Homo sapiens: one gene and its partner. The protein of the gene in region 1 purifies or fractionates together with the protein of each later gene. This does not show direct contact. Each region holds a gene or a part of one and is shown on either strand. Other genes may lie near its edges.

The links. Proteins that work in one complex are often made in the same cells at the same time.
Region 2: the proteins of YTHDF3 (region 1) and STK38L purify together in Homo sapiens (pull-down; one large-scale study listed by IntAct). This does not show direct contact.

Annotation. Positions count from the first base shown.
Region 1 is NC_000008.11:63,175,121-63,178,620, reverse strand, and holds part of YTHDF3 (YTH domain-containing family protein 3), read right to left. Parts: intron 3,291-3,500; coding exon 3,205-3,290; intron 1-3,204. UniProt on the Homo sapiens protein: Specifically recognizes and binds N6-methyladenosine (m6A)-containing RNAs, and regulates their stability. M6A is a modification present at internal sites of mRNAs and some non-coding RNAs and plays a role in mRNA stability and processing.
Region 2 is NC_000012.12:27,247,286-27,250,785, reverse strand, and holds part of STK38L (serine/threonine-protein kinase 38-like), read right to left. Parts: intron 1-3,500. UniProt on the Homo sapiens protein: Involved in the regulation of structural processes in differentiating and mature neuronal cells.

The sequences.
Region 1 (3,500 bases):
CACAAAGGAGAGGTAGAACAGGCCTTACTGGAATCAAACTTTACAACTTCTCTTCAAACAGGATACAAATATGTTGATTCCAAATATCATGAGTTAAAACAAATCTATTTTACAAATGTTTTGCTCCAACATAACCTGCAATGATGCAGCTGAAAAAATTCATTTGGGTTCACTAAGGTAAATGCCTTTACATCTTTTAAAAAGTAATGGTTTCCCAAACACTTTTTAAAACTATTTTTTTTTTTACAAGTAAAGTCTTATGCACAATTCCAATATATAGAACAGATAAAACGCAAACCACAGTGCTAGTTGCTACACTGGTGGGATTCAGGCACCCTCCGCTGGTTTTCCCTAGGAAGACACTAAGGTGCCTCTATGGAATACCAGAAATCCTCCTGACAAAAATTTTTCCTCCAGTAGAAACCCTTCTATGTCCTTGTGACAAATAATAAAGAATTGTAAAATATCTGTTATCAAGCAAAACATGCAAGAAGATTACTCAGGTAGCAATTCCAAAACTGTCTTTTACAGTCCACTAAAATTCCTTAAAAAAGAGTTTGAATGGCTGAGTGCGGTGTTCCATGCCTGTAATCCCAGCACTTTGGGAGGCCGAGGCAGGTGGATCACTTGACGTCAGGAGTTCAAGACCAGCCTTGCCAATATGGTGAAACCTCACCTCTCCTAAAAATATAAAAATTAGCCAGGCGTGGTAGCATGTGTCTGTAATCCCAGCTACTTGGGAGGCTGAGGCAGGAAAATTTCTTGAACCTGGGCGACAGAGGTTGCAGTGAGCCAAGATTATGCCACTGCACTCCAGCCTAGGCAACAGAGCGAGACTCCGTTTCAAAAAAAAAAAAAAAATAAGAGTTTGAACAAGTCAGGATTTTTTATACTATATCTTCATCTTAAGAACTTCATTTTCAATTATAATTTATAAACTATGAAATCAAGTAGCAAAAAAAACAGTTCAACTGTTTAGCCTCCAAAATTTCTCAAATCTATCTAAACATGGACATCTTTTTGAAGGAATATTTATTACACCTCCTAATATTAAGATTTCTCAGCAAAGTTGGAAAATACTGCCATACTGCCATAAGCGTTAACTGAGATTACTATGTGAGCCAGAATATAGTAAAATCACGCTTATTTTAAAACTTGCACTACATTTCACAACAAATGATCTACTTTCATAATCTTTACGTGGAAAAGTAATTTTGCTGAGATCGTAAAGTTTTTTTCTTTCCCATTTATTTCTTCTCCTCCCATGTATGCTAGGAATGTTGCTCAGTAGATAGGAAGGGGTGGTTAAGGGGAAGTAACCAAGAGGTAGATGAGGTTGAACACAACCACCACTCTCCATAATCCTAAAAATAATCCTGCATCCCACAAATTGGGAACTACTTTTTGTTCAAATTTTCCCTATAACTCTACTGTACAAACTGTTCAGTTCTGTAGTAAGATTTGGTTCCTTGTTCTTTCAGAGTTTCAAAAATCTAGGTTAAAATTTTAGAGTACGTTTTTCATTTTCTCCATATATGCAAGCAGACAAGTCAAACTTCATTCAGTTTTCCAATTTACTCTTCAAATTTACACACACAAACTAACTGGCATCTTTAACGTGCCAATTAAAATCTGAATTTTAGGCTGGGCACGGTGGCTCATGCTTGTAATCCCAGCACTTTGGGAGGCTGAGGCAGGCAGATTACTTGAGGTCAGGAGTTCAAGACCAGCCTGGCCAACATGGTGAAACTCTACCTCTACTAAAAAATACAAAAAGTAGCCAGGCGTGGTGGCATGTGCCTGTAATCCCAGCTATTCAGGAGGTTGAGGCAGAAGAATCACTTGAGCCTGGGAGGCAGAGGTTGGAGTGAGCCAAGATTGCGCCACTGCACTCCAGCCTGGGCAACAAAACAAGACTGTCTCAAAAATTAAAGAAAAAAAAAAAACTGAGTTTCTAATCAAATTAATCATAAAATTATTCCAAAGAACTGAGTTTCTAATCAAATTAATCATAAAATTATTCCAAAGAACTACAGAGGTGGGCTGGGCCCAGTGGCTCACACCTGTAATCCCAGCACTTTGGGAGGCCGAGGCGGGCGGATCATGAGGTCAGGAGATCGAGACCATCCTGGCTAACATGGTGAAACCCTGTCTCTACTAAAAATACAAAAAAATTACCCGGGCATGGTGGCGGGCGCCTGTAGTCCCAGCTACTCCGGGCTGAGGCAGGAGAATGGCGTGAACCCGGGAGGCAGAGCTTGCAGTGAGCTGAGATCGCACCACTGCACTCCAGCCTGGGCGACAGAGCGAGACTCCGTCTCAAAAATAAATAAATAAATAAGAACTACAGAACTAATTTTAAGACCCAAAGTTCTTGAGCATTTTTTGCTTTTTTAAAGCAAAACAAACAGTTTCATTCCACAATGTTCTCTCTAAAAAAACTGGTGAATACTGAAAATGTATTTTTTCATTTATTTCTATCAGTGGCTTATTTTTAGTAACAGACAGAAATGGATGCAGAAATGGCATACAGATACCTAATAGCATTGTTCTTCAATGTTTAAATTGGAATTACGCTTGTACACAAATACTCAAAGCCACCAGTTACCAATTACTTGATTTGATAAAACTGTCCATGTCTACAATACAGAAGTAACTGTGTTTATAAAGCAAGTATGTTTATAAACTCCTTAATTCTATCACCGACATTACCAAGGTATGTTAAAATTTTCAATAGTTATCAATGAATTCAATCTGCAATGTCTTAAAAAAAGAAAACACTACATTTGACCCAAAATTGCAGGCAATTTCAGGTAACTAATCCCTCCTCCAAATACCCAAATTTCTAGCTAATTAAGCCTTTTATAATTAGCTTAAGCTATGAAGATATAGCAGTGACATTAAAAGATTAAGTTCCTTCAATACACACACACAAAAAACCTAACCATAATATATACAAATAATGGTCACCTTCAAATCTTTATTCTATATTTCATAACCTAGTTTCTGGTGCCTATACTTTCTGAAGAAGAACTCTCCTGTGCCATAAATCTGCAACTGCTACTCACTACTCACTTACTATATAGGTACACTAGATGAATGAATCCATGTTATGGTTAATCTCATTAAATAATCTATTTGAAAAATCAACTAATACTAATAAAAGGTTAATTTCCTAAAATCTGAAACTGTCAGAAGACTTACCTGATTTGTCTGGCTACTTAAGTATGGCTCAAAATCATCATCATTTACAGCATCTTTTTGATGAATCGAACCGTTTTGTACTGAAACTAAAAAAATGTTTGTATTAGAAGTGTTGTAGTTATCTTTATGAAACTCGCAGCACAACCTAATGTTTTTAATATTTTTCAAGCCAAAAAAAGTAATCAGAAAAAATAATACTGAGTTATTTTTAAGAACCCTCTTAAGGATAAACTATTTTAGATACAAATATTCATGTGCCACAAAAACTTAAAAGTCTTTTGATACATAAGCCCAAG
Region 2 (3,500 bases), on another chromosome or scaffold:
CTCGTGATCTGCCCACCTCGGCCTCCCAAAGTGCTGGGATTACAGGCGTGAGTCACCGCGCCCGGCCTGAAGGAGCAATTTCTAACTCTACCACTTACTATCTACCTGTGTGTCCCTGGGCAAGTCACTTCACCTCTCTAAGCTCCAATTTCCTCATTTGTAGGTAGAGATAATAACTCACAAGATTGCTATAAGGATTAAATGAGATAATATATATAAAGTACTTAGCACTATGTCTGGTGCATAGTAAGGGATAAGTGGTTACTGGCATTGATAAAATTATCAGACCTGTGCCCTAATGGGTGACATTCAGAAAGAAAAAGGAATCAAGAACATTTAAGAGGGAAAGATGATGTTCAGGGAGCTAAATCTATATATTACCACTGGGAGACAAACTTTGAGAAATATAAATTACACAAAGTATGCTTCATATTAAATGTTCAGATTACTTACTGTGTCTCTTGAATTGGTGAGGAATCAAGAGAAATGCAGTCAAAATCTCCAGATCATAAAAGCAGAATAGCAATAACCGTATTCATAAAAGCAGAATAGCAATAACCGTATTCATAAAAGCAGAATAGCAATGGGAGAACTTGGCCCCCTGAAAAGTAGGCATTAATGTGTGCAGAAGCTTCTCTGTCCCAAACTCAATTTTCTAAACTTTCACAGACAGAATGAAAGCTAGACTCCATAGCAAAGGTACAGCAACCCCGAATGCCTGGGTTAGCTATCATGCCCTCATGTTAGTTTCTGCCATCTTGTTCTTTATTCTGGGTGTATCTGTAGCTGATTTGAGGTGTTAAACATTATTAACTCCACCCTATTCAGGAACTGCAAAAGCAGTAAAAGTGTCCCAGGAATCAGGAAAACGAGGAATAAAATCTCCTGAATCAGCTGGAGAGATAGTAAATAACTCAAAGAGGTAAGAAAACAATGGATGCTATCTGTGCATACGGGATCAGAGATTTATCTATTATAACATGTAGAAATTCTATACCTGTGGAATCAACGAGAATCAGCAAAAGGCAAGGAAAACAGGAAGCCTTCTGTATAAATGGCCAGAGAATCAACAATTTGGGTTACCAACTGATCTGGTGTTAATTAAGGGGAAGGTAAAGAGCTTGTTAAGAATTTAAAAGCTAAGCATAGGCCAGGCGCAGTGGCTCACGCCTGTAATCCCAGCACTTTGGGAGGCCGAGGCGGGCGGATCACCTGAGGTCGGGAGTTCGAGACCAGCCTGACCAACATGGTGAAACCCCATCTCTACTAAAAATACAAAACTTAGCCAGGCATGGTGGTGCGTGCCTGTAATCCCAGATATTTGGGAGGCTGAGGCAAGAGAATCACTTGAACCCAGGAGGCGGGGGTTGCAGTGAACCAAAATCATGCATTGCGCTCCAGCCTTGGCAACAAGAGTGAAACTCTGTCTCAAAAATAAATAAATAAATAAATAAAAGCTAAGCATAGTAGAAGTGTTATCACATACCACAGACAATTGCCAAGGCTCCAGGCCTGTTTGGAATTTATACAATATGACTGTGAATGATCAGGTCACCACATGACCTGTAACTGTTAAGGTCTTCCCTAAGATCTGTGCAGAGCTCATCTAAGAGGCAGGCTACCTGCCTCAGCAGACGTTCAATGCAGATAAGCTGTTCCTGGTGGGAAAAGATGCCCCCAAAACTTGAATCAGCAAGGAGGTAACAGTATGACTGGTTTTCTTTTGATAGACCTACTCACACACCTTTTTACTAAGACAATCTTCCCAAACCACCTGTACTTAGAAGAACTTGGAAACTTTTTATAACAAAGCGAAGTCCACATCTAAGTATCTCCATGAAATGATGGGCTAAAGATCTGCCAATCAGGGCATGGTAAATGGAAATGATATACCATCACTATTAATTTAAGGTATGTTTCAAAAAAAAACTTTTTAAAATTTGTTTTGCCATCTCTGTCTTATTTCAATAATATAAACACACGTGCTTTAAATCCTGGCTTTAGTTCTGCTACTCTTCCCATTAGGTTTTAAGCTCATCAACCATCAACTGTCCTAGTATAGGTGTCTTCTAGAACCTACCCCATTGAGTCAAGTGGAGAATACTTATATTCGTTCACAGAGACTATGACTCTGGAGCTGTACTTAAACTATGAGTACGGTCAACTGCAGGCACTGACAAAGAAGCTGAAGAGTCTGGATCCTGCTGGACAGTTAGGAAAAGGCAGGCAATACCTCTCCCACCGCTCACCTGCTGTATTCCCTGCCTAGGTATACTTTTTTTCTAACCTTTAAATCCAATTGAATTTGTGATTCCAATTCTTAAACAATAACAAATGTGGACTATTCCTGAAACTTCATAAATAAAATCAGGTGGACATTTACAGTACTGAGTAGGCCTATACAAGACACTGTGCACTTCTATAGCACCCTTTATTTCACAAACCCAAAGAACTGTCAAAGTTGCCCCAACATAAAGTATCAGTGATGGAACTTCTCTCATTTTTACATGTACAACACTCTATTCACCCTGTTTCTGCCATTATAAGCATAGCTATTCATGAAAATAAACTAAAAGGGCTGAGACCAACATTCAATCATTAACTAAATTTCAACTTCATAATTCAACCCAAAAACTATCCAGTGCCAAGTGGTTTAAAAAATTATAGAACAGGGCTGGGCACATTGGCTCACACCTGTAATCCCAACATTTGGGAGGCCAAGGCAGGAGGATCACTTGAGCCAAGGAGTTCGAGACCAGGCTGGGCAACATAGTGAAACCCTGTCTCTACAAAAAATTTAAAAATCAGTCGGGCGTGCTTGTGCACACCTGTAGTCCGAGCTACTCAGGAGGCTGAGGTGGGAGGATCGCTTGAGCCTGAGAGGCAGAGGTTGCAATGAGCCATGATTGCACTACTGCACTCCAGCCTAAAAGACAGACTTAAACTCTGTCAAAAAAAAAAAAAAAAAAAATTACAGAACAAAGCCAAACACAGTGGCTCAGGCCTATAGTTCCTGCAACTTAGGAGGCAAGAAGATCATCTGAGCCCAGAAGTTCGAGTCCAGGCTGGGCAAGACAGTGAGGTTCTTTCTTTAAAAAAAATAAATTACAGGACAAAATATACAAAGACGCAAACATTCCATTAAGCAAAAGAGTTAATATGGAATAACTTCTCACTTCTAAGTTCTTATGAGTACTTATAGGTAATAAGTCAAAATTATTAAAAAGTCCCACTCAATAGTTATATTTAATCTGCACCAAGAATAACTTCCAAAAATGGATTAAAATAACATGTCAAAAATAACTCATTTACTTGGGTGTTATTTTGGAACTCTTTCTAGAAAACTGACCCCAAAATTTAGATGTCAGAAGAATGTATTTCCCAAGTCAAGTTTTTGAAACTACAGATCTGAGGAAGACCATCATGAACAGGAGAGAAAATATGGATTGCAGTTAAGCATGCCATATGGGTACAAGCCAGAATGCCTGGGTCAGAATCCT